Linked DNA regions of Homo sapiens: region 2 is linked to region 1. The links come from fine-mapping of genetic effects on gene expression. A gene starts in region 1. The other region holds a variant in brackets. All regions are shown on one strand. Distances are between the middles of the regions. Region 1 holds the start of NFKBIA (NFKB inhibitor alpha). Region 2 overlaps PRORP (protein only RNase P catalytic subunit).

The links. PIP is the estimated chance that this variant, and not a neighbour inherited with it, causes the effect.
Region 2: its variant is fine-mapped to the expression of NFKBIA in whole blood (TOPMed, PIP 0.97).

Annotation. Positions count from the first base shown.
Region 1 is chr14:35,396,499-35,412,966 of GRCh38, reverse strand. NFKBIA (NFKB inhibitor alpha) reads left to right here and starts at 8,218. Exons shown (of 6, transcript NM_020529.3): 1 at 8,218-8,549; 2 at 9,169-9,277; 3 at 9,607-9,817; 4 at 10,108-10,196; 5 at 10,304-10,573; 6 at 10,907-11,454. The coding sequence starts at 8,323. The coding sequence ends at 10,954. RefSeq lists enhancers at 5,720-5,779, 7,757-8,156, 7,361-8,232, 9,337-9,386, 9,417-9,726 and 1 more and silencers at 8,227-8,396, 8,547-9,136.
Region 2 is chr14:35,174,536-35,191,003 of GRCh38, reverse strand. It overlaps PRORP (protein only RNase P catalytic subunit), which reads right to left. Exons shown (of 8, transcript NM_014672.4): 5 at 10,227-10,334. PRORP-PSMA6 (PRORP-PSMA6 readthrough) reads right to left here. Exons shown (of 15, transcript NR_182666.1): 5 at 10,227-10,334. Among named protein-coding and RNA genes, the nearest start is that of PRORP, 60 kb to the right of the region's middle. The variant A/C (reference allele first, on the strand shown) is at 5,743.

The DNA.
Region 1 (16,468 bases):
CTTTCTGAAAATATCAGTGTTTTTGGCCAAATAATCACTACACGTTAGCCTATGAACAGCCCTGGGATATAAGAAATGATGAATATTCCTAAGCCAAGCTAAGTGGCTTATCCAAATGGATTGTGTCACAGTCATGGGACTGGACTCTGACAGCTGACACCTGGTAACAAAGAAAAAATGTTCCAGGCCAATTTCTCCCTTTTTTTCTGCTCATGGCTTCTATTTGTGATCCTTCTCACTCTGTTTCTCATTTGCTTTCAGTGGTTAAAAATAGGCCGAGCAACCGTGGCTCACACCTGTAATCCCAACACTCTGAGAGGCTGAGGCAGGCAGATCACGAAGTCAGGAGATCGAGACCATCCTGGCCAACCTTGTGAAACCTTGTCCCTACTAAAAATACAAAAATTAGCCGGGAATGATGGTGCGTGCCTGTAATCCCAGCTACTCAGGAGGCTGAAGTAGGAGAGCCACTTGAACCTGGGAGGCGGAGATGGCAGTGAGCCGAGATCACGCCACTGCACTCCAGCTTGGCAACAGAGTGAGACAACATCTCAAAAAAAAAAAAAAAAAAAAAAAAAAAAAGAAAAGAAAAGAAAAAAATAGGCTGAGCACGGTGGCTCACGCCTGTAATCCCAGATTTTGGGAGGCCAAGGTGGATGGATCACTTGAGGTCAGGAGTTCAAGACCAACATGGCAAAACCCCCCATCTCTACAAATAATACAAAAATAAGCTAGACGTGGTGATAGGCGCCTGTAGTCCCAGTTACTAGGGAGGCTGAGACATGAGAATCACTGGAACCCAGGAAGCGGAGGTTGCAGTGAGCCAAGATCACACCACTGCACTCTAGCCTGGGGAGCAGAGCGAGACTCTGTGTCAAAATAAATAAATAAATAAACAAACAAACCTGGCCAGGCTAGGTGTGGTGGCTTACGCCTATAATCCCAGCACTTTGGGAAGCTGAGGCAGGTGGATCACCTGAGATCAGGAGTTGGAGGCCAGGAACATGGCGAAACCCCATGTCTACTAAAAATACAAAAATTAGCCAGGTGTGGTAGCACATGTCTGTAATCCCAGCTGCATGGGAGGCTAAGGCAGGAAGATTGCTTGGGCCCAGAAGGTCAAGACTTCAGTGAGCAATAATCGTGCTACTGCACGCCATCGTGGGTGACAGGGTGAGATCCTGTCTCAAAAAAAAAAAAAAAAAAAAATCAACCTAAGAAAAACTTTCAGAAACTATATTTTTGTGGTACCGTTCCCCACTAATAGCCTCAGAGACAAATCTCAATTTCTAATACTCATCCAAGCACTCCGGTGTTTTACTCCAGATAATAGAGGCTCTAAAAGGAAGTCTGAGAAAGGCATTATTTTAGCACTTACAAGAAAGGGCTCAGGAACAAGCTTCCTAAATCCTTACTCTGTAATATGAATCTATCTCTTAGCAGCTCTGATTCTGTTTTCCTTTTTCCTAAATGATTCCCAAGACCTTAGACCGTAGGGGGGAAAGGATCTACCTCTCCATGTGGTTTCCGTTGGTGGATACAGCTTAGGCCCCCTCTGAGAAGGATCATGAGCTCCTCACCTAATTTCAGTGCCAAAGAACAAGGGCCTCATATCATTTATGTCTCATCCCCTGCCAAGTACCAGGCTCTTGTGTGGAAGTTCCCTAGTGCTAAGTATCCTCATACCCTGACTAAACTCAGAATGAATTTACACCCAAGACAAAATAGCAAATACAGCGGCATGCAGGGGAAACTGCCTTAAGCCTTTACCACCTTCCTGATCCAACAACTTCTCCCTGAACACAACAGACCATGAACAATGCTACACACCTATAAATATTACTTGGTTACTGCCAACAAGCCACGAAAAGGGAGAGCCAGTAATTTTGGCCACGGGTGACACGTGCAGGCCTCCTCCTTCCCTCGCAGCAGGTTACCCAAGAGCCAGATGGGCATGCAGTTAGGGCACCAGCAGAGCAGGCACACCTCAGGAGATGTTTAGTGAAGTCATCTGATTGCTTAAAACAACGTAAGTAGTCATTGTGAGAAAAATCAGAACTTTGTTGGACTTATTATGCTTATTTTACACTGTAGCATTTAAAAATTGCTTTGGGGCAGGGTGCAGTGGCTCACACCTGTAATCCCAGCACTTTTGAAAGTGAAGATGGGCGGATCGCTCGGACCCAGGAGCTCAAAACCAGCCTGGGCAACACAGGGAGACCCATCTCTACAAAAAATTAAAAAATTAGCCAGGCACAGCCGGGTGTGGTGGCTCATGCCTGTAATCCCAGCACTTTGGGAGGCCGAGGCAGGCAGATCACTTGAGGTAAACAGTTCGAGACCAGCCTGGTCAACACAGTGAAACCCTGTCTCTACTAAAAATACAAAAAATTAGCTGGGCATGGTGGCAGGCTCCTGTAATCCCTGCTACTTAGGGGGCTGAGGCAGGAGAATCGTCTGAACCTGGTAGGCAGAGGTTGCAGTGAGCCAAGATTGCACCATTGCACTCCAGCCTGGGTGACAAGAATGAAATTCCGTCTCAAAAAAAATTAGCCAGGCACAGTGGCATGTGCCTGTGGTCCCACTGCATGGGAGACTGAGGTGGGAGAATTGCTTGAGCCCAAGAGATTAAGGCTACAGCGAGCTGTGATCATGCCACAGCACTCCAGCCTAGGTGACACAGCAAGACCTTGTCTCAAAAACACAAACAGGCCGGGCATGGTTGCTCACACCTGTAATCCCAGCACTTTGGGAGGCCAAGGCGGGTAGATCACCTGAGGTCAGGAGTTTGAGACCAGCCTAGCCAACATAGTGAAACCCTGTCTCTACCCAAAATACAAAAAATGAGCCGGGCATGGTGGCGGGTGCCTGCAATCCCAGCTACTCAGGAGGCTGAGGCAGGAGAATCACTTGAACCCGGGAGGCAGAGGTTGCAGTGAGCCAAGATCACATCATTGCACTCCAGCCTGGGCAACAAGAGCAAAACTCTTGGTTTGTCTCAAAAACAAACAAACAAAACAAATAAATACTTGGTTTGAGGGAGGAAAAATTCACTTTTCAGAGGTTAGAGCCCCTAATCCTAACCCTGCCTGGCAGGAGCAGCCCTGCGCATCATGGATGGACACACTGTCCCAGTCTCCTGTTACACAGGAGCAGAGAACCCATGATGCCAAGAGCAGAAGGTTGTGCCTCTTGCAAAGCACAATTAAAACATCATACCTTGGCTGAAAAAGAGGTTGTAAACTCAGAGCTTATAGGCTCTGTTTAGCCAATAGATGCAGAAATGCATTGTGTTTAGTTTTCATAATGTTTTTATGTTTGTTTGAGGCAAGGTCTCACTCTTTTGCTGAGGCTGGAGCTCAGTGACACAGTCATGGCCCACTGTAGCCTCAACGTCCCAGGTTCGAGCAATCCTCCCACCTCAGTCTCCCAAGTAGGTGCGACTACAGGTGTATGCCACCACACCTGGTTAATTTTTTTATTTTTATTTTTATAGCGATGGGGTCTCACTATGTTGCCCAGGCTGGTCTCAAACTCCTAAACGCAAGTGATCCTCCTGCCTCACCCTCTCAAAGTGTTGGGATTGCAGGCATGAGCCACGGAGCTGGGCCAATTTTTTTTATTTCTTTAACAATAGAAGGTCACTACTGAACTGAAGGTGCTACATGCCAAAAGTTGTCTGAGCTAAGTATGAGGGAAGTACACACCCTGACCTAAGCTGTTGGAGATCCCACTCCTTTCAGACTCAAATGGTCTGTTTCACTCATCTGTGAAATCTGCCTGCTCCCTATGCGTAAGTATTTTGAGTTTGAGATCCTTTAAAGCTTTGATCTCCATTAAATTGCAGAATTTGTAGCAAAGGAAACACATTAAGGATTTGACGGTCTTATTTTCACTTCACTACAAATGAAGGTTCTGACAGCTGTTTTTCCTTTTTTTTTTTTTTAATTGAGACAGAGTCTCTCTCTGCTGCCCAGGCAGGAGTGCAATGGCACGATCTCAGCTCACTGCAACCTTCACCTCCCAGGGTCAAGTGATTCTCCTGCCTCAGCCTCCCGAGTAGCTGGGATTACAGGCATGTGCCATCACGCCTGGCTAATTTTTGTATTTTGAGTAGAGATGGGGTTTCACCATGTTGGCCGGGCTGGTCTTGAACTCCTGACCTCAGGTGATCAGCTCGCCTCAGCCTCCCAAAGTGCTGGGATTATAGGTCGGAGCCACCGCCCCCAGCCTTGTTTTTCTATGGGAAAAGATCCATAGCTTGGGGGCTCCCTGTTCTGAAGAGGATGCAGACAGTTGCTACCACGATAGCAAGAAAGAAGACAACCTGAGACTGAAAGCAGAATATTTAGAATTTCACAGTGGGGCTGCCAGTTGGGAGTGCACCTGCCTTGCTCTTCAGGAACTCTGTCATGGCTCGTCTTTCTTCCAGCCTAGCTGCACTGAGCAATAGGTAGCCTGATTCCAGAGTTGAATTTGCTGTAGCCAAAACAATTTAGTTTTAATTGGCCAGGCCAGTTGACACAGGCCACCCTGCCCTGAGGATTTTGGACCACCTGGCTGAACTTGTAGACTCTCTCCATGGCACTTCAGGCAATAGGTTTTGTCCATACTGTGCTTGTTCCATGCAGGAGGAGTGCCTGAAGTGCCTGCAGCCAAACCAGGCCCTGGCGATGCTCCTTTTCCCATGGGGGTGCTCCTGGAGCATCACTGGCCGTCCTGTCATTTCCTACGGCTGCGTCCTGGGCCAAAATACAAAGCAGCTTTGAGGTGTAACTTATTATTTTGCCTTATGCATTAAAAAGGCCAAATAACATTAAAAATCAGTTATCTAAAGTATTTTGTTTTGTTTTGTTTTGTTTTTTGAGACAGAGTCTCACCCTGTTGCCCAGGCTGGCGTGCAATGGCGCGATCTCGGCTCACTGCAACCTCTGCCTCCTCGGTTCAAGTGATTCTCCTGCCTCAGCCTCCTAAGCAGCATCTGCACCACCACACCCGACTAATTTTTTGTATCTTTAGTAGAGACGGGGTTTCATCATGTTGGCCAGGCTGGTCTCGAACTCCTGACCTCATGATCCACCTGCCTCAGCCTCCCAAAGTGCTGAGATTATAGGCGTGAGCCACTGCGCACAGCCTACAGTTTTAACATTTTTTTTAACGGTTATGTTAGCTAGAATGTTTGACAATGAGGAGGAGAAAAATCTGAGTGCTGAAGGGTCCATAAAGGTCTTTCTTTTTCTTTTTTTTCTTTTTGAGACAGGGTCTCAGTCTGTTGCTCAAGCTGGAGTGCAGTTGTGCCATCATGGCTCACTACAAACTCCACCTCCCAGGCTCAAGCAATTCTCCCACTTCTGCCTCTGGAGTAGCTGGGACTACAGGCACCTGCCACCACACTCTGCTAATTATATTTTTTGTAGAGACAAGAGTTTAGCCTTGTTGCCCAGGCTGGTCTCCAACTCCTGGGTGGCAAGCAATCCTCCTGCCTCAGCAACCCAAAGTGCTGAAATTACAGCAGTGAGCCACAACTCCTGGCCCATAAAGGTCTTTCTAAATCAAAACCAGACCCTCTTGTTGTCTTCTGCCCAGTCTGCTCATGGTTCTAATTTCCAAGTGTATATTCTTTTTCACCCACGTTGTAATGTTTGTTGACTTAAACCATATAGCGCTATAGATGATGGGGAGAAAACCTGTTGGATCACATTATTCAAAACTGTTTCCCAGAGTCGCAGGAAAACAATAGGTACCTCCTTGGAAATCTCCACTGTAGGGACAAGTCATCAAGGCTCAGCACCTCCCAATTTTTGCAAAAGGCACTATGACAAATCAAGGAACGCCTGTGCCTTACTCTTACCACTAGGTGTCACACAAAACAATCAGGAATAAACACCAAGATCCTGAAGGCTACCAGAAATATAAAACCATAGAAGGTGGTGCAAAAAAACCTTATTCCTCAGATATTTTTATTTTTTATAACCATTTTTATACCTGAAGCCAAATATCTTCTTCTGATGTATCCTCTATAATTGGGACATTTAGAGTTTGATGTTTCTGTACTTGTTTAAAAGAAGTGACTATCCCCAGATGGGGGTCAGGGGACACCCACCCTTTATTTTCCCTAACAGTTGGAGTAGAAAATACTTTTGAGTACATTCCAAATTATAGTGTAGTCAGTCTGATTTTCACAGCGTGTTTTCAAAAGTGTTAATACTAAGACTGCTTTGGCCAAATGATTAATATACTGCCAAGGGGTTCCTGGGTAAATTTCTATGCATTTCAGTTTCTTTTTAGGGAAGTAGGAACAATATCTATCTTACAAGATTAGTTCTGAGAACAATGTGGTACATAAGGCGCTGGAATTCTTTCAAAAATTTATACCCTGACATTTCCAAGAGCCATGGTCACCCTTACAAAGGAGAGTTAGGCATGCATTTGTAGACAAGCAATATGACTTTTAAGCTAGAAAAGACCTTAAGTAACATTCAATCTAATCTTATTATAAAAGTTAAGTATACCACAAAAAAGTTAACTGACCTCTCCAACTAATGTGCAGTCAAGTAAAGATAGAACCTGGAATTGAGATGTCCCATTGCAGTCACTGTTTCACCTTGCCTCAATCATTGTAGATTTGCATATCATAAACCTGCAGAGACAATGGTGTCTATCCCTGGGAAGTTTTCATTGTAACATGTGATCATTATTACCCTGGAGGGTCTATCTGATTTTAATTTTTTTCCCTTCATACTTGGTCTCTCTCTATCGAGTCAGATTTCTTTCATTCTAATATTAGGGGAGGGGTGGAGATACGAAGAGAGGGGAAGGATTGGTTAGTACAAGGCCAGTCAAGGTAAAGATGATTGCAATAATCACCAGAAATCTCTGCAGAACTACAGAGGCCTCCTGGGACTAATTCTGAAGAGCTCTGACCGAAGTTTGCTTTATTTTGCCTGTACCAATTCTACCAAGTAGATGAATTCAGTCCATGGCTTGCAGGCTTGGAGGTGGAGGTGGAGTGGAGAGCATAAATTATATTTCTGCAGGTGAAACCAGAGCATAGTGAGCCGAAACCCCTTTCTACCCAGGTGGCGTGAATGGGTCCAACTGCTACTGTCCCCCAGGACAAGAGAGCAAGGAGGGGCGGGCAGGATGGGACTACCTTGAGCCTCCCGCAGGATGCCTGGCAACTACTTTCTTAGTGGTCCTTAAGGTCCAATCGCGGTTAAGGCACTAACTAAACTCATTCTTCAGCCTCCTTCTCTAAGTTCTCCTCGAATTTGGGTGCCCAGAAGTAGGCTCACGATCCTTTTTCTGCGGGAGCACAATGTAGGTCAGATAGCATAAACGAATAGCTACTTATGAACACAATAGCTACTCTGCTATTGCAAGGTATCCACAACCACCACTACAAACATTAACACCTTGCTTTACTTGGGAAACAAAAAAAATCATGGTCCTATTCAGCAGTTTCCCCATACAGGGAGCGTTTGCCCCTCCCCCAGTCAACAGGGCTGTTCATCCCTAGGAAGTGATTTGAGAGTTCTCCAAGGATTTAGGCTTTTCACTCCTCCAAAGCTTTCACAACTTCTACCTGGCGGGGGTGCGTGGGGGGGTGGGGGCGAAGCTAAAAGTTCCTTTGCTGCAAAGAGCCTGGTATAGGCAGAAACACCGGCGCGGCCTGCAGCCCCCTAACCACAGTGCGTCCTTCCCCTTAGAAGTCTGGGGAAAGCAAATCCCTACGCCCAGCCATCATTTCCACTCTTGCGTTTTCAAAAGATCAAAAAACGGAAAGGACCGGCAGGTTGGCAAACCCCAAAGAGGGACCGCCCATCAGGTCGGCGTCCTTGGGATCTCAGCAGCCGACGACCCCAATTCAAATCGATCGTGGGAAACCCCAGGGAAAGAAGGCTCACTTGCAGAGGGACAGGATTACAGGGTGCAGGCTGCAGGGAAGTACCGGGGGGAGGGGGCCTGGTCGGAAGGACTTTCCAGCCACTCGGCGCTCATCAAAAAGTTCCCTGTCCGTGACCCTAGTGGCTCATCGCAGGGAGTTTCTCCGATGAACCCCAGCTCAGGGTTTAGGCTTCTTTTTCCCCCTAGCAGAGGACGAAGCCAGTTCTCTTTTTCTGGTCTGACTGGCTTGGAAATTCCCCGAGCCTGACCCCGCCCCAGAGAAATCCCCAGCCAGCGTTTATAGGGCGCCGCGGCGGCGCTGCAGAGCCCACAGCAGTCCGTGCCGCCGTCCCGCCCGCCAGCGCCCCAGCGAGGAAGCAGCGCGCAGCCCGCGGCCCAGCGCACCCGCAGCAGCGCCCGCAGCTCGTCCGCGCCATGTTCCAGGCGGCCGAGCGCCCCCAGGAGTGGGCCATGGAGGGCCCCCGCGACGGGCTGAAGAAGGAGCGGCTACTGGACGACCGCCACGACAGCGGCCTGGACTCCATGAAAGACGAGGAGTACGAGCAGATGGTCAAGGAGCTGCAGGAGATCCGCCTCGAGCCGCAGGAGGTGCCGCGCGGCTCGGAGCCCTGGAAGCAGCAGCTCACCGAGGACGGGGACTCGTAAGTGGCGGAGGCCCGGGGCTGGGGGTCGTCGGGAGGGCGGGACGCGCGCGGCCTGGGGGTGGGAGGCGCCGGGCCTGGAGCCCGAGCCGGGGGACCAGCGATGCAGCCGGGCGGGCGCCGCGGCACCCCGGGGCTCCTGCACCGCCCCGAACGCTGCAGGGCTGCAGGGCCGCGCGGGGCACCGGCCCAACTCGGAGGGGCGGCGGCTGGGCCCTGGTGGATGGCAGCGTCGCCACACGCCCCCTCCCCCCAGACCCGTCCTCTAGGCCGGGGGCGGGGCGGCAGCGGGGACGCGAAGTCCCCGGTTGCATAAGGCGGGGCGGGAGTTTCTGGCCGCTGGCGGGCGCCGAGCAGCCGGGAGGGGAAGTACAGGGCGTTCCGAGCTGGCGGGAGGGCGGGGCGGTCTGGCCGGCGCCCGCCGGGGCCGCGGGGGGAGGGGGGCGGAAAGTCCCTGGGCGCCTGCCAGGAACACTCAGCTCATAATAACCTCGCGGAAAACACCGCGGCCTCGGCCTCCAGAAACCCCGGCCTTGCGCAATCCCCCGCAGCCCGCGCCTCCCTGGGCCCCACGCGGTGCACTCACCACCCCTGGGGTTTTTCCCTCTCTTCCCCACAGGTTCCTGCACTTGGCCATCATCCATGAAGAAAAGGCACTGACCATGGAAGTGATCCGCCAGGTGAAGGGAGACCTGGCCTTCCTCAACTTCCAGAACAACCTGCAGCAGGTGCGCCGCTTGCCTGGCCCGGGTTCTCTCTGACCCTGGGACGTAGCTGATGTAGCAGAGTCACCCCAGATCCTTTCTGAATTCAGGGCCACTGAGCACTATTTACCCTCACCTTTTACTTCACATCAGCCCACATCCTAGAGAGTGAAGGAAATTCCACTGATTTGGTGAGGTCTTTATGACCCACCTGGAGCCTCTGCTATTTGCCAGCCCTCCCCACCCCCCTGTCTAGGAGGAGCAGCACCCAACCAGGAGACACGGGTTGAGGGGAACTCGGGGTGTGGGTTTGGTCCATGGCTTACTTTCTCTGGTCTCTCTTGCATTCGTAGACTCCACTCCACTTGGCTGTGATCACCAACCAGCCAGAAATTGCTGAGGCACTTCTGGGAGCTGGCTGTGATCCTGAGCTCCGAGACTTTCGAGGAAATACCCCCCTACACCTTGCCTGTGAGCAGGGCTGCCTGGCCAGCGTGGGAGTCCTGACTCAGTCCTGCACCACCCCGCACCTCCACTCCATCCTGAAGGCTACCAACTACAATGGTATGTCTGCCTCCCTGCCCTGCCCCACCCCCTCGGAGGGCAGGTGACGTGGAGAAGGGGCAGGTGGGCCAACTTAAGGAGTCCAGGCAAGAGCTTAAACTCCTAACATTTGGAAGGTTGAGAAAATATGTGTGCAAAGTGCCTATTGGATGCCTTTATAAAGTTCTTTCAGAACCCAGACTGTGGGTTCTTAAAATTCAGAAGATAAGACTACTTGTTCCATAAAAGAATAGGTGAAAGGAGTGAGGGTTGAAACAGGTGGTTATACTTTTTTCCTTTTGTTCTTCCAGGCCACACGTGTCTACACTTAGCCTCTATCCATGGCTACCTGGGCATCGTGGAGCTTTTGGTGTCCTTGGGTGCTGATGTCAATGCTCAGGTTGGTGCTTCCTGCCCCCGACGCACTGAGTCAGGCTCCTCGTGCTTATGTTGTGAGCAGAAATTCCAAATGCAGCCATAAGCATCTCAAATTCCTTTTGGTTTCAGGAGCCCTGTAATGGCCGGACTGCCCTTCACCTCGCAGTGGACCTGCAAAATCCTGACCTGGTGTCACTCCTGTTGAAGTGTGGGGCTGATGTCAACAGAGTTACCTACCAGGGCTATTCTCCCTACCAGCTCACCTGGGGCCGCCCAAGCACCCGGATACAGCAGCAGCTGGGCCAGCTGACACTAGAAAACCTTCAGATGCTGCCAGAGAGTGAGGATGAGGAGAGCTATGACACAGAGTCAGAGTTCACGGAGTTCACAGAGGACGAGGTGAGTCTGTGAACTCCTTCGGCGCTCTAACTAATGAGGTGCCATTCCCTTCACCCTCCCAGGCCCCTAGAGCTGCTCCTTATCAGAGGGGTATCTACATAATGAGTCTCTCAAATTTCTGTGCATAACCAGTATCCCAAGAATGTACCTGCCCCCCCTCTTTTTTTAAAGAGAAGCATTAAAGGCAAACTCTCTCAGCCTGTAAAGTTCATTATATTTGGGCTATGGAGAATGGAGTCCAAGAGTTATTTCCAGTAGTGGCCTCCCCATCCCGGTAGCTTGGCAGAGCTCCGCTCCGGAAGCTTAACGTGTCTTTTTTCCCCTTGTTTTCAGCTGCCCTATGATGACTGTGTGTTTGGAGGCCAGCGTCTGACGTTATGAGCGCAAAGGGGCTGAAAGAACATGGACTTGTATATTTGTACAAAAAAAAAGTTTTATTTTTCTAAAAAAAGAAAAAAGAAGAAAAAATTTAAAGGGTGTACTTATATCCACACTGCACACTGCCTGGCCCAAAACGTCTTATTGTGGTAGGATCAGCCCTCATTTTGTTGCTTTTGTGAACTTTTTGTAGGGGACGAGAAAGATCATTGAAATTCTGAGAAAACTTCTTTTAAACCTCACCTTTGTGGGGTTTTTGGAGAAGGTTATCAAAAATTTCATGGAAGGACCACATTTTATATTTATTGTGCTTCGAGTGACTGACCCCAGTGGTATCCTGTGACATGTAACAGCCAGGAGTGTTAAGCGTTCAGTGATGTGGGGTGAAAAGTTACTACCTGTCAAGGTTTGTGTTACCCTCCTGTAAATGGTGTACATAATGTATTGTTGGTAATTATTTTGGTACTTTTATGATGTATATTTATTAAACAGATTTTTACAAATGAGTTATCCTGATCATTTTCTTCAGGCTGCCGTGGGCCTCCGGTTCTGAAGTTCCATCCTCCGGCAGAGGTGGAGGTGGAGCAGTGTGAGGGAGGAGGTAACTCCCAGCAGCTTCTCACACCTGACACCCAGCCTCCAGCAAAGCTTTGCAGGCACCCTGGGCCCAGTGTGTGGGAGGGAGGCTGTTGCAAGGTTATAGGAAATTACCAATCTCAGGCTTGGGGTGGAAGCATGCTGTTTGGCCTGTGGTTGGAGACCTCTCCGTTGTCATTCTGTCATCCCGTTGATTTAAACTTCCTGGACCCTAATTGCCAGTTGAGGAAATTATTTTGGCCAAGAAGAATATGCTGAATTCATATAGAGCTGGGAAAGATCTCACTAATACAGGAAGTTCCTAAGGACATAGGCTCAGAAATGGGACTGCACTGACATTTGTTAGCAGATGCTCACCTCTGAGCCTCAGTTTTCTCATTTATTAGCTGGGCTGTTGTGAAAATTACATAAGACAATCCACGTAAAATGCATAGCAGAGCGGCAGGCACGTAGTGCTAAAGAAAAACAAGCTGTTACGCAACGTTCTTTATGTCATACCAGGAGAAACAAGTCCAGAGAGAATGTCCTGTCTAGGGTCACCTTGCAGGAGAAATAGGTGGTTAACATATTTCATACGTGCTCGTTTTGGGGTAAACATCTTTTAAGAGCATTCCATCTCTTAAATCTATGTGTTATTGGCTGTAGTAGAAAAGTAATAAAGGCTTGAAGGGTCTTATCAGTTCAGTCTACTGATTGTACTGGACGATTCTACAGGAGCAAATGTCACAAGAAACCAGTAATGTGAAACTTGGCTTAGATGCTCTATCTTGAGGTTTTCATCCCTAAAATGGCTCTCTTGCCTAGGTAGAGAGAAGAATAAAGATGGGTATACTGAAAGCCCAGACTTTACCGCTATACAATATAAAAAATCTGCATTTGTACTCTGTAAACATTTTTATTAAATTTTTGGGGGATAGGGTCTCACTCTGTTGCCCAGGCTGGGGTGCAATTGTGCAATCACAGCTCACTGCAGCCCCAAACTCCTGGGCTCAAGCGATCCTCCCAACTCAGCCTCCTGAGTAGCTGGGACTACAAGCATGCACCACCATGCCTGACTAATTTTATTTGTAGAGACAGGGTTTCTCTATGTTGCCCAGGCTGGTCTGGAACTCCTGGGCTCAAGAGATCCACCCACTATGGCCTCCCAAAGCACTGGGATTACAGGTCTGAGCCACCACACCCAGCCAAAACATTTCTGAGGAAAAAGTAAAGTTATTGCATTCTAGAAAATGCAGAGTAGTGTATAAATGCAATTCATGTCTTTGACTTATACCTAAGAAAAAATTATTACATTATCCCTTTCCTGATCCACAAACGATGTCAAAGTCAAAAGAATATGGTCACCTTGGACCAAAAAGGAGCCAGTATTTAGTGGTCTTCCACATATAAGGAGTGTTACTACAGACTGGTTAAAGCCAATTCTGCCCCAATTCTTTCTCTTTCTTTTTTTTTTTTTTTTTTTTTTTTTGAGATGGAGTCTTGCTCTGTCGCCCAGGCTGGAGTACAGTGGCATGATCTCAGCTCACTGCAACCTCCACCTCCCGGGTTCTAGCGATTCTCTGTGCCTCAGCCTCCCGAGTAGCTGGGATTACAGGTGCCTGCCACCACGCCTGGCTAATTTTTATATTTTTAGTAGAGACAGGGTTTCACCATGTTGCCCAGGCTGGTCTTGAACTCCTGACCTCAGGTGATCTGCCCACCTCAGCCTCCCAAAGTGCTGGAATTTCAGGCGTGAGTCACCGCGCCCAGCTCTGCTCCATTTCTGTAGCCTTAGTCCATCCGGAACCCAGCACTGGCGGTCCCTCTACCAGTCTTATTCTCTGTCAAAGTGCCCGGGTTCTTCCCTGAAATTCCTTGTCCATCCCCAAGCACCTCAACACAGGTGTTAAATGACCTACCACAGGAATTAGGTCAGTTAGGTTCAGCTCTCAGCTAAGTGGGAGAGGTAAGATGGGAGTGGGGTGATATCCCCACCCTCATTCTCAAAAGAACAAAGGTTGGAAACTTGGCTCCCCAATTTTGGAACGATGCCCTTAGTACTTTCTACTCAGTCAAATGTGACTCTTCTTCCCTCTGTAAAGGGGTTAAATTTGTGCCAATTCACCCATACGCTGTCTCTAGTTCTGTGCTAGGTTGTAGAAACAGGACAAAGCTGTGCGCCACCCCCTCATCCCCAGCCTCCTTAGAGCCCAGCTCTTGCATAGGGGCGTCACCCTCCATGGTCAAGCAAGGGTGGGCCCCTTCTCACCCACTTGGGCCCAGTCTCCCACCTTTCTAGGCTTCAGCTTTTCTTCTTTCTAGGTCCTAAACCTTGGAAAAGGTTCTGTCATCTGCATAAATCTCGAGGTAGCTGGGCCCAGTTAAGCACTGAAGGCTGCCCCGGTTCCTTACTCTCTAGCTCTTCTCCCCATTTCTCATCCCCCCCCCCACCTTTTTTTTGTGTGTGTGTGATAGGGTCTCACTCTCTTGCCCAGGCTGGAGTGCAGTGGCATGATCTCGGCTCACTGTAACCTCCGCCTCCTGGGTTCAAGCAATTCTCCTGCCTCAGCCTCCCGAGTAGCTGGGACTACAGGTGCACACCACTACACCCGGCTAATTTTTATATTTTTAGTGGAGATGGGGTTTCGCCGTGTTGGCCAGGCTGGTCTCGAACTCCTGACCTCAAGTGATCCACCTGCCTTGGCCTCCCACAGTCCTGGGATTACAGGTGTGACCCACCACACCCAGCCCTCCCTGCTTTTCTTTTCTTTTTGTTTTAAATTTATTATCTTTCTGTCCTGCCTGTTGGTTGGGTGACTGGAGCCTGGAGTTCCCTAAAGGAAAATTTTAGAAGGGAAACATTCTAATCTGTAGAAAATCTTCAAATTCCTAAGCAAACAAGAGCAAAAGATCTCAAAGTAAACAGGCCAGCAGACGGAGAGTCTTCTTTAATGCACTTTGATTTCCTCCAAGAAGTTACAGATTGTGTGGGGACAGGTAGGACTAAGAGTGCCTAGAGAAAGGGGAAGTGATATGAGGGGGAAATAATATATCACATCAGCAACTTCCTTGAATTCAGTTCCTTGATTCCTTCTGCCTGCCTTATCCATCAGGATACATTTCCTGTAGCGGCCACGTGTACCAAGTCCTTCCAGAAAGTAAGGATTTTTCTTTAAAGAGGGAACAAACTAGTCTGAGCAATCTGAAGACCTTCCCCTGGGGCCTGGAAATTCAGAAGGCTGGGAGCTTGGGTGGATTTGCATGGAAAGTTCAGTTGCTACTGGAAGTGATTAAGTGGTGACAGAATTGAGTCTGTCAGATGGGTCTTCCTTCCCCAAGACTTCCCACCCCCGTACCCACCCACTCCCCCACCCCCAGCTTTCTGCCAGATTTTCATTAACTTGCCTTAAGTGTAGCTGAAATTTCATTTGGCAAGAAAAGTCTGAGTTGTGGAACTCCAGTCTGAAACATGCCCAAGAAACATTCCCCAACCTCTGGTGCCTGGACAAGAATATCCTAGGCTGTTTCCCCATTGAAAGAGAGCATTACAGAAACTGAAACTGGACCTCACCTGTGTTTCCCTCCTAGAGAAGTACGACTCTCCAACCCATTCCTTCATTTGCATCAAAAAGAACTATTCTCCAGGCCTCCTGCCAAGGGCAGGAATAAGAGGAATAAGTCATGGCCTCTGCCCCTAAGAGCTCCTTGCTTAGGTGGAGAGGGAGACAGACAACTGCATGGAAAGGCGTGATGAGATGAAAGCCCATAGCACGGGAGCTGAGCCCAGGCACCAGCGCGGAGTGCAGGTGGGAGAGACGGGACCCGAGCTCATATTCCAGTTAGCTATTTACCTGCCAGTACTATATTATCTTATCCCATGCCCCAAGTGACTGTGGCAGGCACCCTTTTCACAGGGGGCAGGAAGTATGACCCAGCATCAGCCAATCTGAGTCATTGACAAGTAGGACTGGACTCTGAACACTGACATGAAAATAGGGCCAAGGCCCACAAACCGGCCAGCAATCCAGGTAAGTGTGACCAGGTGCGGGGGCTCATGCCTATAATCCCAGCACTTTGAGAAGCTGAGGCAGGAGGATCATTTGAGCCCAGGAGGTCAAGACCAGCCTGGGAAATATAGGGAGAGCCCATCTCTACAAAAAAAAATACATTAAGGCCAGGCACGGTGGCTCACACCTGTAATCCCAGCACTTTGGGAGGCTGAGACAGGCGGATCACCAGAGGTCAGGAGTTTGAGATCAGCCTGGCCAACATGGTGAAACCCCATCTCTACTAAAAATACAAAAAGTAGCCAGGCCTGGTGGTACGTGCCTGTAATCCCAGCTACTTGGGAGACTGAGGCAGGAGAATCACTTGAATCCAGAAGGCAGAGGTTGCAGTGAGTGGAGATCGTGCCATTGCACTCCAGCCTGGGCAACAAGAGTGAAACTCTGTCTCAAAAAACAAAAAAGAAAGAAAGAAAGAAAGTCAGCCTGGGTCACACAGCCAGTAAATGGCAGAGCCAGGCTCTAGGTATATATTCCTAACCTGGGGATAAAGCAGCTTCCAGGCCAGGCACACTGGCTCACTCCTGTTATCCGAGCACTTTGGAAGTCTGAGGTGTGCAGACTGCTTGAGCCCAGGAGTTCGAGACCAGCCTGGACAACACAGTGAAACCCCATCTCTGCAAAAATACAAAAAATTAGCTGGGAGTGGTGGTGCGCACCTGCAGTCCCAGCTTTCATGCACGTCCGTGTGAAGAGACCACCAAACAGGCTTTGTGTGAGCAAAATGGCTGTTTATTTCACCTGGGTGCAGGCGGGCTGAGTCCGAAAAGAGAGTCAGCGAAGGGAGATAGGGGTGGGGCCGTTTTATAGGATTTGGGAAGGTAATGGAAAATTACAGTCAAAGGGGGTTGTTCTCTGGTGGGCAGGGGTGGATCTC
Region 2 (16,468 bases), 220 kb after region 1:
TCATAAAAAGAAATCCATGAACCTAAAACTGCTCTAGGAAAATTAAGTTTATTAAATTAAAAAAGAAAAAAGAAATCCAATCCAAGAAAATCTAAAATATCTTGCAACAGATTATGATGAAGAGATGTTGGTTCAAGTGCTATATAAAAGTTGACTCAAGTAGTATGTAAGGGTCCATAACTAATACTTTTAAATACAGTCAGCCGGGTGCGGTGGCTCATGCCTGTAATCCCAGCACTTAGGGAGGCCAAGTAGTCGGATCAGGAGGTCAGGAGATTGAGACCATCCTGGCCAACATGGTGAAACCCCGCCTCTACTAAAAATACATAAATTAGCCAGACGTGGTGGCACGTGCCTGTAATCCCCGCTACTCAGGCGGCTGAGGCAGGAGAATTGCTTGAACTCCGGAGGCGGAGGTTGCAATGAGCCAAGATCATGCCACTGCACTCCAGCCTGGGTGACAGAGCAAGACTCCATCTCAAAAAAATAAAAATAAATAAAAATAATAAAATAAATTTAGTCATAGTTTCTTCAAAATTACAACATACTCTGGAGATTTAAATGTTACTAGACCATTTTGCAATACTTTTTTTTTTTTCCTTTTTGAGACAGAGTTTCACTCTTGTTGCCCAGGCTGGAGTGCAATGGCTCGATCTCGACTCACTGCAACCTCTGCCTCCTGGATTCAAGCGATTCTCCTGCCTCAGCCTCCCGAGTAGCTGGGATTACAGGCATGCACCACCACGCCCGGCTAATTTTGTATTTTTAATAGAGACAGGGTTTCGCCATGTTGGCCAGGCTGGTCTTGAACTCCTGAACTCAGATGATCCACTCACCTCGGCCTCCCAAAGTGCTGGGATTACAGGCATGAGATACTGCGCCCAGCCTTTTTTTTTAAGACGGAGTCTCACTCTGTCACCCAGGCTGGAGTGCAGTGGCGCAATCTCAGCTCATTGCAACCTCTGCTGCCGGGTTCAAGCGATTCTCCTGCCTCAGCCTCCCGAGTAGCTGAGATTACAGGAAAGTGCCACCACACCCAGCTAATTTTTGTATTTTTAGTAGAGACAGGGTTTCAGCATCTTGGCCAGGCTGGTCTTGAACTTCTCACCTCTTGATCCACCCGCCACAGCCTCCCAAAGTGCTGGAATTACAGGCATGAGACACTATGCCCAGCCTGCTATGCTTATTTTTTAAAAAAATTTTATCTCATGTATTTTGGGTAAATACTATTTTCTATTCTGACAATTCAAGTAAATCTTTAATGAAAAGAGTCATGCACGAACACAAGAATCATTGTTAATAGACAACAGAATACACAATATGCATTTCTTGTTTAGATAACACAATCATTAGCCTAACCTTGTGGCTAGCATTCCTGTTATTGATCTATGGTCATATCCTCACAGCTTAAAACAGTATCTGGCTTGGAATGGGTGCTCAAGAAACAGTAATTGAATCAACCTAATAATTCCCTGCCAAGTTTCTGTAACTGTTCTTCTTAAAAGGCAGGCTATATAATCAATCTGCTAGTCACTCAGAATCCTTCCCTCTTCTTTAAAAAAAAAAAAAAAAAGCTCAGAATTTTTCTTTTTCTGAAAAATTGAAACCAGGGAAATATATTACTTTATGCAGGCTGGGCACCATGGCTCACACCCATAATCCCAACACTTTGGGAGGCTGAAGCAGGCGGATCACTTGAGCCCAGGGGTTTGAGACTAGCCTGGACAACATGGCAAGGCCCCATCTCTAAAAACAACAACAACAAAAATACTTTAAGCAAAATACAATTTACAGTTGAAAAACATCTACAAGAAAAGTAGTAAGACTTAGTCTGCCTAGATTTACAGGTTAAACAAATAAATAGGGTGAAGGTTAGTCCCCTTTAATCTCACTATATTCTAAATTATGTTGGTTTATCAGGTACTCAAGATTGAACTATTTCCCTAACAATGCAAACTCTGTAACTGCAAGAACTAAAACTATAAAACTCTTAGAAGAAACATAGGCATTAATCTTCATGACCTTGGATTAGGCAATACTTTTTTTTTTTTTTTTTTTTTTTAGACAGAGTCTTGCTCTGTCGCCAGGCTGGAGTGCAGTGGTACGATCTCAGCTTACTGCAACCTCCGCCTCCCGAGTAGCTGGTACTACAGGCACCCACCACCACACCCAGCTAATTTTTGTATTTTTAATAGAGACAGAGTTTCACCATGTTGGCCAGGATGGTCTTGATCTCTTGACCTCGTGATCTGCCTGTCTTGGCATCCCAAAGTTCTGGGATTACAGGCGTGAGCCACGGCGCCCGGCTCTTAGGCAATGATTTCTTAGATTAGACACCAAAAGCACAGGCAACAAAAGAAAAAATAAATTGGACTTCATCAAAACTAAAACTTCCATGCCTCAAAGGATATCATCAAAACACCGAAAAGAGAATCCAAAGCCTGGGAGAAAATACTTAGAGATTATATATCTGATAAAGATCTAGTATTTGGTATATAGTTAAAAATTATAACTTAGCTGGGTGTGATGGCTCACACCTGTAATCCCAGCACTTTGGGAGGCCGAGGCGGGCAGATCACGAGGTCAGGAGTTCGAGACCAGCCTGACCAACATGGTGAAACCCCATCTCTACCAAAAATACAAAAAAGAGCCAGCCATAGTGGTGCACGCCCATAATCCCAGCTACTCAGGAGGCTAAGGCAGGAGAATCGCTTGAACCCGGGAGGTGGAGGTTGTAGTGAGCCGAGATCATGCCACTGCACTCCAGCCTGGGCAACAGAGCGAGACTCTGTCTCAAAAAAAAAAAAAAAAATTACAACTCAACAATAATAATAAAAAACAATTAAAAATGGGCAAAGAAATAGACATTTCTGGCCAGGCACGGTAGCTCATGCCCATAAGCCCCACACTTTGGGAGGCTGAGGTCAGGTGTTCAAGACCAGCCTGAACAACATGGTGAAACCCTGTCTCTAATAAAAACACAAAAATTAGCCAGGTGTGGTGGCCGTGCCTGTAATCCCAGCTACTCAGGAGGCTGAGGCAGGAAAATCGCTTGCACCCAGGAGGTGGAGGTTGTAGTGAACCGAGATCGCACCACTGCACCACTCCAGCCTGGGCGACAAAGCGAGACTCTGTCTCAAAAAATAAAAAAAAAAAGAAAAGAAAATAAATATACATTTCTTCAAAGAAGATATACAAATGGCCATTAAATATATTAAAGGATATTCAACATCATGCATCATTAACAAATGCAAATCAAAACTACAAGATACTGGGCCAGGTGCGGTGGCTCACGCCTGTAATCCCAGCACTTTGGAAGGCCAAGGCAGGCAGATCACCTGAGGTCAGGACTTTGAGACCAACCTGGCCAACATGGCGAAAACCCGTCTCTACTAAAAATACGAAAAAAAAAAATTAGCCAGGCATGGTGGTGCACACCTGCAGTCCCAGCTACTCAGGAGTCTGAGCCACGAGAATTGCTTAACCCAGGAGGCAGAGGTTGCAGTGAGCTGAGATCATGCCACTGCACTCCAGCTTCGGTGACAGTGAGACTCCATCTAAAAAAAAAAAAAAAACAAAGAAACTACAATATACCAGGTCCTGCATTTCTTACATGACCAAAACAAACAAAAAAAGATACCACTTCACACCTGCTAGGATGACTATAATCAAAAAGACAAATAACAAGTGTTCGTGAGGATGTGGAGACATTGGAACCTTTATACACAGCTGATGAGAATGCAAAATGGTGCAGATGCTTTGGAAAACAGTTGGGAAGTTCAAAAGATTAAACACAGAGTTATCATATGACCCACCAATTCTACTCCTAGGTATATAGCCAAAAGAAATGAAAACATATGTCCACACAAAAACTTGTGCCTAAATGTTCATAGTAGCATTACTCATAATAGCCAAGAAGTGGTAACAACCCAAAGGTCCATCAACTACAGAACAAATAAATAAAATGTGGCATATCCATACAATGGAACACGATTTGGCAATAAAAGGGAATGAAATACTGATTCCTGCTACAAAATGGATGAACTTTGAAACACTATGCTAAGTGAAAATATGAAATGTCTGGAATAGGTAAATTCATAAAGATAGAAAGAAGGCCAGACATGGTGGCTCAGTCCTGTAATCCCAGCACTTTGGGAGGACTGCCTGAGGCCAGGAGTTCAAGACCAGCCTGAGCAACACAGTGAGACCCTGTTTCTATGAAAAATAATAATAATAATAATAAAATTAGCTGGGCCTGGTGGTGTGTGCCTGCAGTTCTAGCTACTTGGAAGGCTGAGGCAGAGGACCACTTGAGCCCAGGAGGTCAAGCCTGCAGTGAGATATGACTGCACCCTTACCCTCCAGCTTGGGCAACACAAGTACCTGTCTCAAAAGAAAAAAAAAAAGAAAATGAAAGAAAAAAGGAAAAGACAGAATGAAGACTAGTGGTTGCCAGGGACCAATGGGAGGAAGAAACTGGGAGTTAGTGCTAATGGGTATGAGGCTTCTTCAAGAAAAATGAAAATGTCCTGGAATAGGATAGTGGTGATGATTGCAAAACTTTGTGAATACAGTAAAAACCACTGAATTGTGCACTTTAAAAGGGTGAATATTATGTTATATAAATATTATATTTCTCAATAAAAAAGAAAAAAAAATACAACCATTAAAGAATTGAGACATGACTTGGCCAAGTCTCCAATTGTGCCAAAAGCAAAATCTAGGCGGCATGGTGGTTTATACCTGTAATCCCAACACTTTGGGAGGCCACAGCAGGCAACTTAAGCCCAGGAGTTCAAGACCAGCCCGGGCAACATGACAAAACCCCGTCTCCACAAAAAAAAAAAAAAAAAATTAGCTGGACTTGGTGGCATGTGTATGTAGTCCCAGCTACTCAGAAGGCTGAGGTTGGGGGGTGTCTTGAGCCCAGGGACTTTATAGTCCCCAGTTCCACTTAGCACATCTTGTAATCATACTTCCTCATTATTAACATTCCAGAAACTGTAAGATGAAACACTGGTTTAGGAATAAATAACTTTTAAGCAAAAAAACAAACAAAAAAGTATACTATTTCAGTAACCAACAAAATTGTACATTAATCCATATAGTTCATACCATAATCTTGTTTTGGAATCACAATTAACATGTAAGTATACACTTTCATATCTGAATTGAAGGCTGTTCTGTTCTAAATCACTTTTGGCCATAACAGTTCTGTACATCCTCATGGTGACATATTACACACCACTCTCCTTAGAGCCTGTGCTATTCATCTTCACTTTTATAACACTTTTAGGACCAACAGCATGACACTAAGGTTGAAAAATACTGGAGTTTACCTGTATTTCACATCTGATTATTGCTTTTTCTTTCTTTGAATTATGCCATTCTGGAAGTTAGTCAACTTTGCTTGAATGTCTATGGGAAGGTATTGGCAGGTGGAAGTTTGCAGGCTCAGTGGCAACTTTTCAAAATGCAAAAATCAGTCATAACAACCTCTTCTTGCTTTAAAATTCTGTACCTTAGTCTTAGAAAAGCAACTTCCACTGTCTTTTATTACATTGTCAGGAAACCTTTGGCAAATATTTAAAGTTAAGATTTAGGTTAAAACTACAAATTTACAAGAGAAAAACAATCCCATTAAAAAGTGGGCAAAGGACATGAACAAAAACTTCACAAAAGAAGACAAACATGTGGCCAACAAGCATATGAAAAAAAGCTCAATATCACTGATCATTAGAG[A/C]AATGCAAATCAAAACCACAGTGAGATACCATTTCACACCAGTCAGAATGGCTATTATGGAAAAGTCAAAAAATAATACATGCTGGTGAGGTTGCAGAGAAAAGGGAACACTTATACACTGTTGGTGGGAGTGTAAATGAGTTTAACCATTGTGGAAAGCAGTATGGCAATTTCTCAAAGTGCTAAAAGCAGAACTACCATTCAACCCAGCAATCCCATTACTGAGCATATACCCAGATGAGTAGAAATCATTCTACCATAAAAACACATGCAAATGAATGTTCACTGCAGTACTATTAACAATAGCAAAGACATGGAATCAACCTAAATGCCCATCAATGACAGATTGGATAAAGAAAATGTGGCACATATACAACATGGAGTACTATGCAGCCAAAAAAAGAATGAGATCATGTCTTTTGTAGGAACATGGATGGAGATGGAGGCTATTATCGTTAGCAAACTAATGCAGAAACAGACATCCAAATACTACATGTTCTCACTTATAAGTGGGAACTAAATTATAAAAGCTTATGAACACAAATAAAGAAACAACAGACACTGGGGTCTACTTGAGCGGGGAGTGTGGGAGAAGGCAGAGGAGCAGAAAAGATTAACTATTGAGTACTGGGCTTAATACCTGGGTGATGAAATAATATGTATAACAAACCCCCTTGACAAATGTTTATGTATGTAACAAACCTTCCCATGTACCCCCAAGCTTAAAATAAAAGTTTTTTAAAAAAGATTTAGGTTAAAATTAAACAGTGTAACAGTGTGTGGAGCTACGAATATAACTAATTCAACTGAGGTGGCAATGTATAGCTAATTCTGTACACACCCAGGCAATGACAGTCACCAATAAATCTCTACATGGTGGCTGGCAAGTTTCTACTGACATGAATTATAACATAGACTTCAGAAAAGTTAAAATATAAAAAAGATTCATTTGAAAATTGAGAAAATAAAATACATTTACAACTAGAACTTTCTTTTTTTAGTTCCTTAATCTCTATCACCCTTAAGCTATAGGCTCTGAGATCAAGATATGTGATAATGGTGCTATTCCATAAACAATGAATGTAAAAAAGTTATCTTCTCATTAATGAACTTACAGAGAATACTAGATATATAATCAACCATTAATGTAAAAGGACCGAGAAAAATGTGTAATGTATAATGCAGAGAGTTTATAGGAAGAGCATAAATAATATGTACATCACTCCACAGACAAAAAGTCTGGAAATCTCTTCAAAGATGGAAAAAACTTAAAACTTATAGAACTTCGAATTCCTAATTTTTCCTTTATGTACACTTATAGGTAATTGTATTAAGAGAAAGATAAGGAAGACAGAAAAGACAGTGAAGAATATTCCCTTTCTGGAACTATTTCATTAAAGTTTGTCCCACAATTTAAAAAAATCTGTTTGACCTAAAAAATGGGGAAGAAACCATCCAGCCCTTTTCACTTAGCGGACTCATGGCATAGGTGAGTGGCTGAAACAATCATGTAATAAGTAACCTTAAAGAAATGTGTTATATTTAGGCACCATTATACACTTTTGGTGGTAGTATAAATTACTACAATCATTTTGGAAAGCAATTTGGCAATATATAGTGAGATCTTTAAAAATATATATACCCTTTGACTAAAGAGTCCAGTTTCTCAAAATCTATTCCAAAGACATCCTATGAAACATGCACAGAGGCTGTCTTCCAAGTATTACTTATTATAGTGAAAAATGGAAAGCCTCATTTGTCTAACAACAGGTAAATGATTTAAAAATTATTGTACATCCACAAGACACAGAGTATTACAAAATTATTTTAAAATATTTATCAAGAATGCTTTTTAACTTTTTTCCTTTCCTGATATTTTTAAAATTTTTAAGTAATATATACTCATGGTAAAAGAAAATTCAAAAAACGTGAACAAAAACCAGAAGTCCTCTCAATTCTCTTATACAGTATTCTATCCCCAATTCCCAAAGGTAACTACACTGTTAAATTGTGTGTGTGTGCGTGTGTGTGTGTGTGTGTATGTATGTATGTGTTAAACTTCTAGAAATTTTTTGGGCATACACACACAAACTTATCTAACAAACATTTATCTATACATGGATAATTTTTTGCTTTGTTTTTAATATAAATAGAGCAATTCTAAGCATGTTGTTTTTCATTTTGCTTCTTACACTTATATTCTGACAACTGTTCCACAGCAGCACATATTGGTTTACCTTATTCACAAAAATTAATATTTAAATATGTATCGGGCTTAAGATTGATAGATATTTAGGTTGTTTAGATTTTTCTGCTCACCAATAATGCAATAATGAACACATTTGAATACATTTCTTTATGTACTAGTGTTACTATGTCAGTTCCTAAAAGCAGAATTTCAGTATTTTAGATAATGAAAGTTACAGACAAATCATCCACCAAAAATATCGCACTGATATCATCCTTCCTACCTCTTCAAACTATTCTAAACACTGAATATTACCAACTTTTAAAGATTTACCAATCTGGAAGATAAATATTTTAATCTGTGTATCTATAAATATAAGTAAAATTAAACCACTATTCCACTGCATGGGTCATCTTTTTCTTTTTTGTTTTCGAGGAGTCTCACTCTGTCGCCCAGGCTGGAGTGCAATGGCAAGATCTCAGCTCACTGCAACCTCCACCTCCCGGGTTCAAGCAATTCTCTTGACTCAGCCTCCCAACTAGCTGGGATTACAGGCACCTGCCACCACACCCGGCTAATTTTTGCATTTTTAGTAGAGATGGGGTTTCACCATGTTGGCCAGGCTGGTCTTCAACTCCTGACCTCAGGTGATCCACCCGCCTTGGCCTCCCAAAGTGCTGGGATTACAGGCGTGAGCCACCGTGCCCAGTCGGTTCATCTTTTTCTTATAGGCTTATGAGTCCTGATACAGTGAGGAAATTTGCTCTTTGTCACATATTGTAAACATTTTATTTACTTTTTATTTTTTGAGATGTAGTCTTGTTTTGTTGCCGAGGCTGGAGTGCAGTGACATGATCTCAGCTCACTAAAACCACCGCCTTCCGGGTTCAAGTGATTCTCCTGCCTCAGCCTCCCAAGTAGCTGGGACTACAGGTGTGCGCCATCATGCCCGGCTAATTTTTTTGTATTTTTAGTAGAGATGGGGTTTCACCATGTTAGCCAGGCTGGTCTCGAACTCCTGACCTCAGGCAATCTGCCCGCCTCAGCCTCCCAAAGTGCTGGGATTACAGGTGTGACCCACCATGCCTGGCCTACATTTTGCAGTTTGTTGTCTTTCAACAGTGTTTATATTTTTTAGTTCAGTTTTGTTTTGTTTTTTACTGTCTAGCAAATTTTTCTATTCTTCCCATTAGGGTTCCTCAACTTTACATATGCTTCAATTTCAAATATAAAAATAATATATATGTATTTTACTACTCTTTTTATCATTACTTTTTTTTTTTTTTTTTTGAGACAGTTTTGCTCTTGTTGCCCAGGCTGGAGTGCAATGGCACGACCTCGGCTCACTGCAACCTCCGCCTCCCAGGTTCAAGCAATTCTCCTGCCTCAGCCTCCCGAGTAGCTGGGATTACAGGTACATGCCACCATGCCCAACTAATTTTTGTATTTTTAGTAGAGACAGGGTTTCACCATGTTAGCCAGGCTGCTCTTGAACACCTGACCTCTGATGATCCACCCACCTTGGCCTCCCAAAGTGCTGGGGATTACAGGCATGAGCCACTGTGCCCAGCCAGCGGCAGCAATTTTTAAGAAATAGTTTAATTACAGATGAATGGCTATAGATTGCCAATGATAAGAGCCACAAGTCTGAAACCCAGGAGCTCTCTACAATCTAATTTTGATGTTATGACTGTTTTCTATAGATTTACTATACAAAATTAGCCTCAATTTTTTAATCTACAAAATAGAGATTAAAGTAACTGTTAATTGCAGCTATGAAAAATGATAGTCTTATTAGAAACTAGTAGGGCATTTATAAATTAACAAATGGCTACCATATAGAAAAAAAAACTGCTTAGGTTAATTTATGAACATACTATGTTTGGAAAAAACAAATGTGAGTAATGAGTGATTAATATCTCTTGATATTGTATATTGATAATTTTCAAATATAAGGATATGACCCAAAGGGAAATGACAGAGCGACCCCAAAGAGAAAGCAGAGACCCAGGAGAAGGTTAGCTAAAGGTTACACGAAACGGGAAAATCTGGCCCTGTATTGCAATCTTTCTTTTAATTCCTCACTTTTAATTGTTTTCTCCCAGCCTTGAAGAGCGACTTATTAGTGATGAAAATAGTAAATCTTAGGGGAGCATGCAGTTGGTCACTGTGGCACCCTGAAGACCTTAGTTTTAGAGGAAGAAAAACTGAGGAGCTAAGAGCCCCAAGAAGGTCATAAATGGGTATAATAAATATTTCTAGAGATGTGGAATAACAAAGTAAAACTTATACTTACAAGTTGAGATTCACGAACTTTAGGAAACATTTTGGCAACATTGAGACCATCAATGACAACATCAAAAGGAGGACGAGATTTTATGAAGTTCTCAAATCTCTTAAGTTCCTAATAAAGAAATGTCAGACAAAACATTAATAAGAACTCAGTAAGGACTTTATTATAAACACACTGCAGTGACCTTTATTATTGTTTTGATAATTCAAAATATTCATCCCTTAAAAATACACACACACACACACACACACACAGATACTCTACAAATGAAATCTGAAAAAGCCAGTCTAATGGATGCAACTGCATACAATTATCCAATACACTCTATAATCTCATAGTGCTTTATACTGCACAAAGCACTTTCATATGTAATTTCATTTGATCTGCAGCTGGCCTATCTAGACTTCTAAATTAACCCACATGATAGTTATGATAAGAATGAACTGGCGGTTCCAAGATGGCCGAATAGGAACAGCTCCAGTCCACGGCTCCCAGCGTGAGCGATGCGGAAGATGGGTGATTTCTGCACTTTCAACTGAGCTTTGAAGAGAGCAGTGGTTCTCCCAGCACGGAGTTTGAGATCTGAGAATGGACAGACTGCCTCCTCAAGTGGGTCCCTGACCCCCGAGTAGCCCAAGTAGGGGCAGACTGACACCTCACACGGCCGGGTACCCCTGAGACGAAGCTTCTAGAGGAACGATCAGGCAGCAATATTTGCTGTTCAGCAATATTCGCTGTTCTGCAGCCTCCGCTGCTGATACCCAGGCAAACAGGGTCTGGAGTGGACCTCCAGCAAACTCCAGCAGACCTGCAGCTGAGGGTCCTGACTGTCAGAAGGAAAATTAACAAACAGAAAGGACTTCCACACCAAAACCCCATCTGTCTGTCAACATCATCAAAGACCAAAGGTAGATAAAACCATAAAGATGGGGAAAAAACAGAGCAGAGAAGCTGAAAATTCTAAAAATCAGAGCACCTCTCCCCCTCCAAAGGAACGCAGCTCCTCGCCAGCAACAGAACAAAGCTTTGCGATGACTTTGATGAGTTGAGAGAAGAAGGCTTCAGACGATCAAACTTCTCTAAGCTGAAGAAGGAAGTTCGAACCCATTGCAAAGAAGCTAAAAACCTTTAAAAAAGATTAGATGAATGGCTAACTAGAATAACCAGTGTAGAGAAGTCCTTAAATGACCTGATGGAGCTGACAACCATGGCACGAGAACTACGTGACGAATGCACAAGCTTCAGTAACCGACTCGATCAACTGGAAGAAAGGGTATCAGTGATGGAAGATGAAATGAATGAAATGAAGCAAGATGAGAAGTTTAGAGAAAAAAGAGGAAAAAGAAATGAACAAAGCCTCCAAGAAATATGGGACTATATGAAAAGACCAAATCTATGTCTGATTGGTGTACCTGAAAGTGACAGGGAGAATGGAACCAAGTTGGAAAACACTGCAGGATATTATCCAGGAGAACTTCCCCAACCTAGCAGGCAGGCCACCATTCAAATTCAGGAAATACAGAGAATGCCACAAAGATACTCCTCAAGAAGAGCAACTCCAAGATACATAATTGTCAGATTCACTAAAGTTGAAATGAAGGAAAAAATGTTAAGGGCAGCTAGAGAGAAAGGTCAGGTTCCCCAGAAAGGGAAGCCCATCAGACTAACAGCGGATCTCTAGGCAGAAACTCTACAAGCCAGAAGAGAGTGGGGGCCAATATTCAACATTCTTAAAGAAAAGAATTCTCAACCCAGAATTTCCTATCCAGCCAAACTAAGCTTCATAAGTGGAGGAGAAATAAAATGCTTTACAGACAAGCAAATCCTGAGAGATTTTGTCACCACCAGGCCTGACCTAAAAGAGCTTCTGAAGGAAGCACTAAACGTGGAAAGATACAACCGGTACCAGCCACTGCAAAAACATGCCAAAACGTAAAGACCATCGATGCTAGGAAGAAACTGCATCAACTAATGAGCAAAATAACCAGCTAACATCACAATGACATGATCAAATTCACACATAATATTAACCTTAAATGTAAATGGGCTAAATGCTCCAATTAAAAGACACAGTCTGGCAAACTGGATAAAGAGTCAAGATCCATCAGTGTTGCTGTATTCAGGAGACCCATCTCACATGCAGAGACACACATAGGCTCAAAATAAAAGGATGGAGGAAGATCTACCAAGCAAATGGAAAACAAAAAAAGGCAGAGGTTGCAATCCTAGTCTCTGATAAAACAGACATTAAACCAACAAAGATCAAAAGAGACAAAGAAGGCCATTACATAATGGTAAAGGGATCAATTCAACAAGAAGAGCTAACTATCCTAAATATATATGCACCCAATACAGGAGCACCCAGATTCATAAAGCAAGTCCTCAGAGACTTACAAAGAGACTTAGACACCCACACAATAATAATGGGAGACTTTAACACTCCACTGTCAACATTACACAGATCAACGAGACAGAAGTTAACAAGGATATCCAGGAATTGAACTCAGCTCGGCATCAAGCGGACCTAATAGACATCTACAGAACTCTCCACCCCAAATCAACAGAATTTACATTCTTCTCAGCACCACATCGCATTTATTCCAAAATTGACCACATAGTTGGAAGTAAAGCACTCCTCAGCAAATGTAAAAGAACAGAAATTATAACAAACTGTCTCTCAGACCACAGTGCAATCAAACTAGAACTCAGGATTAAGAAACTCACTCAACCGCTCAACTACATGGAAATTGAACAACCTGCTCCTGAATGAATACTGGGTACATAATGAAATGAAGGCAGAAATAAAGATGTTCTTTGAAACCAATGAGAACAAAGACAAAACATACCAGAATCTCTGGGACACATTTAAAGCAGTGTGTGGAGGGAAATTTATAGCACTAAATGCCCACAAGAGAAAGCAGGAAAGATCTAAAATCGACACCCTAACATCACAATTAAAAGAACTAGAGAAGCAAGAGCAAACACATTCAAAAGCTAGCAGAAGGCAAGAAATAACTAAGATCAGAGCAGAACTGAAAGAGACAGAGACACAAAAAACCCTTCAAAAAAATCAATGAATCTAGGAGCTGGTTTTTTGAAAAGATCAACAAAATTGATAGACTGCTAGAAAGACTAATAAAGAAGAAAAGAGAGAAGACTCAAATAGACACAATAAAAAATGATAAAGGGGATATCACCACCGATCCCACAGAAATACAAACTACCATCAGAGAATACTATAAACACCTCTACGCAAATAAACTAGAAAATCTAGAAGAAATGGATAAATTCCTGGACACATACACCCTCCCAAGACTAAACCAGGAAGAAGTTGAATCTCTGAATAGACCAATAACAGGATCTGAAATTGAGGCAATAATTAATAGCCTACAAACCAAAAAAAGTCCAGGACCAGACGGATTCACAGCCAAATTCTACCAGAGGTACAAGGAGGAGCTGGTACCATTCCTTCTGAAACTATTCCAATCAATAGAAAAAGAGGGAATCCTCCCTAACTCATTTTATGAGGCCAACATCATCCTGATACCAAAGTCTGGCAGAGACACAACAAAAAAAGAGAAATTTTAGACCAATATCCCAGATGAACATCGATGGAAAAATCCTCAATAAAATACTGGCAAACTGAATCCAGCAGCACATCAAAAAGCTTATCCACCACGATCAAGTGGGCTTCATCCCTGGGATGCAAGGCTGGTTCAACATACGCAAATCAATAAATGTAATCCAGCATATAAACAGAACCAAAGACAAAAACCACACTATTATCTCAATAGATGCAGAAAAGGCCTTTGACAAAATTCAACAGCCCTTCACGCTAAAAACTCTCAATAAATTAGGTATTGATGGGACGTATCTCAAAATAATAAGAGCTATTTATGACAAACCCACAGCCAATGTCATACTGAATGGGCAAAAACTGGAAGCATTCCCTTTGAAAACCGGCACAAGACAGGGATGCCCTCTCTCACCACTTCTATTCAACATAGTGTTGGAAGTTCTGGCCAGGACAATCAGGCAGGAGAAAGAAATAAAGGGTATTCAATTAGGAAAAGAAGAAGTCAAATTGTCCCTGTTTGCAGATGACATGATCGTATATTTAGAAAACCCCATTGTCTCAGCCCAAAATCTCCTTAAGCTGATAAGCAGCTTCAGCAAAGTCTCAGGATACAAAATCAATGTACAAAAATCACAAGCATTCTTACACACCAATAACAGACAAACAGAGAGCCAAATCATGAGTGAACTCCCATTCAAAATTGCTACTAAGAGAATAAAATACCTAGGAATCCAACTTACAAGGGATGTGAAGGACCTCTTCCAGGAGAACTACAAACCACTGCTCAACGAAATAAAAAAGGACACAAACAAATGGAAGAACATTCCATGCTCATGGATAGGAAGAATCAGTATTGTGAAAATGGCCATACTGCCCAAGGTAATTTATAGATTCAATGCCATCCCCATCAAGCTACCAATGACTTTCTTCACAGAATTGGAAAAAACTACTTTAAAGTTCATATGGAACCAAAAAAGAGCCTGCATTGCCAAGACAATCCTAAGCCAAAAGAACAAAGCTGGAGGCATCAAGCTACATGACTGCAAACTATACTACAAGGTTATAGTAACCAAAACAGCATGGTACTGGTACCAAAACAGAGATATAGACCAATGGAACAGAACAGAGCCCTCAGAAATAATGCCGCTTATCTACAACTATCTGATCTTTGACAAACCTGACAAAAACAAGCAATGGGGAAAGGATTCCCTATTTAATAAATGGTGCTGGGAAAACTGGCTAGCCATATGTAGAAAGCTGAAACTGGATCCCTTCCTTACACCTTATACAAAAATTAATTCAAGTTGGATTAAAGACTTAAATGTTAGACCTAAAACCATAAAAACTCTAGAAGAAAACCTAGGCAATACCATTCAGGACATAGGCATGGGCAAGGACTTCATGTCTAAAACACTAAAAGCAATGGCAACAAAAGCCAAAATTGACAAATGGGATCTAATTAAACTCAAGAGCTTCTGCACAGCAAAAGAACCTACCATCAGAGTGAACAGGCAACCTACAGAATGGGAGAAAATTTTTGCTATCTACTCATCTGACAAAGGGCTAATATCCAGAATCTACAAAGAACTCTAACAAATTTACAAGAAAAAAAACAACCCCATCAAAAAGTGGGCAAAGGACATGAACAGACACTTCTCAAAAGAAGACATTTATTCAGCCAACAGACACATGAAAAAATGCTCATCATCACTGGCCATCAGAGAAATGCAAATCAAAACCACAATGAGATACCATCTCACACCAGTTAGAATGGCGATCATTAAAAAGTCAGGAAACAACAGGTGCTGGAGAGGATGTGGAGAAGTAAGAACACTTTTACACTGTTGGTGGGACTGTAAACTAGTTCAACCATTGTGGAAGACAGTGTGGCGATTCCTCAGGGATCTAGAACTAGAAATACCATTTGACCCAGCCATCCCATTACTGGTTATATACCCAAAGGATTATAAATCATGCTGCTATAAAGACACATGCACATGTATGTTTATTGCGGCACTGTTCACAATAGCAAAGACTTGGAACCAACCCAAATGTCCATCAATGATAGACTGGGTTAAGAAAATGTGGCACATATACACCATGGAATCCTATGCAGCCATAAAAAAGGATGAGTTCATGTCCTTTGTAAGGACATGGATGAAGCTGGAAACCATCATTCTGAGCAAACTATTGCAAGGACAGAAAACCAAACACCGCGTGTTCTTATTCATAAGTGCGAATTGAACAATGAGAACACTTGGACATAGGAAGGGGAACATCACACATCAGGGCTTGTCGTGGGGTGGGGGGAGGGGGGAGGGATAGCACTAGGAGATATACGTAACGTAAATGACGAGTTAACGGGTGCAGCACACCAACATGGCACATGTATACAAACCTGCACATTGTGCACATGTACCCTAGAACTTAAAGTATAATAAAAAAAAAAAAAAGAAAAAAAAAAGAAGAATGAACTGTCAAAATCTCTAAGTCCTGTTCTGTAGGCCAAGGAGGAGTGAACCTTAGGTATGCCACTCTACCAGTACAACCGTGCTGAAAGAACAAGGCTGTAAAACGTATAGGTCCTCTTTTGTCATTAAGAGGCTTTTATTTACCTATGGCTGTTTTGGAGAGGTAAAGATTCAGCCAATCATTAATTCAACAAATA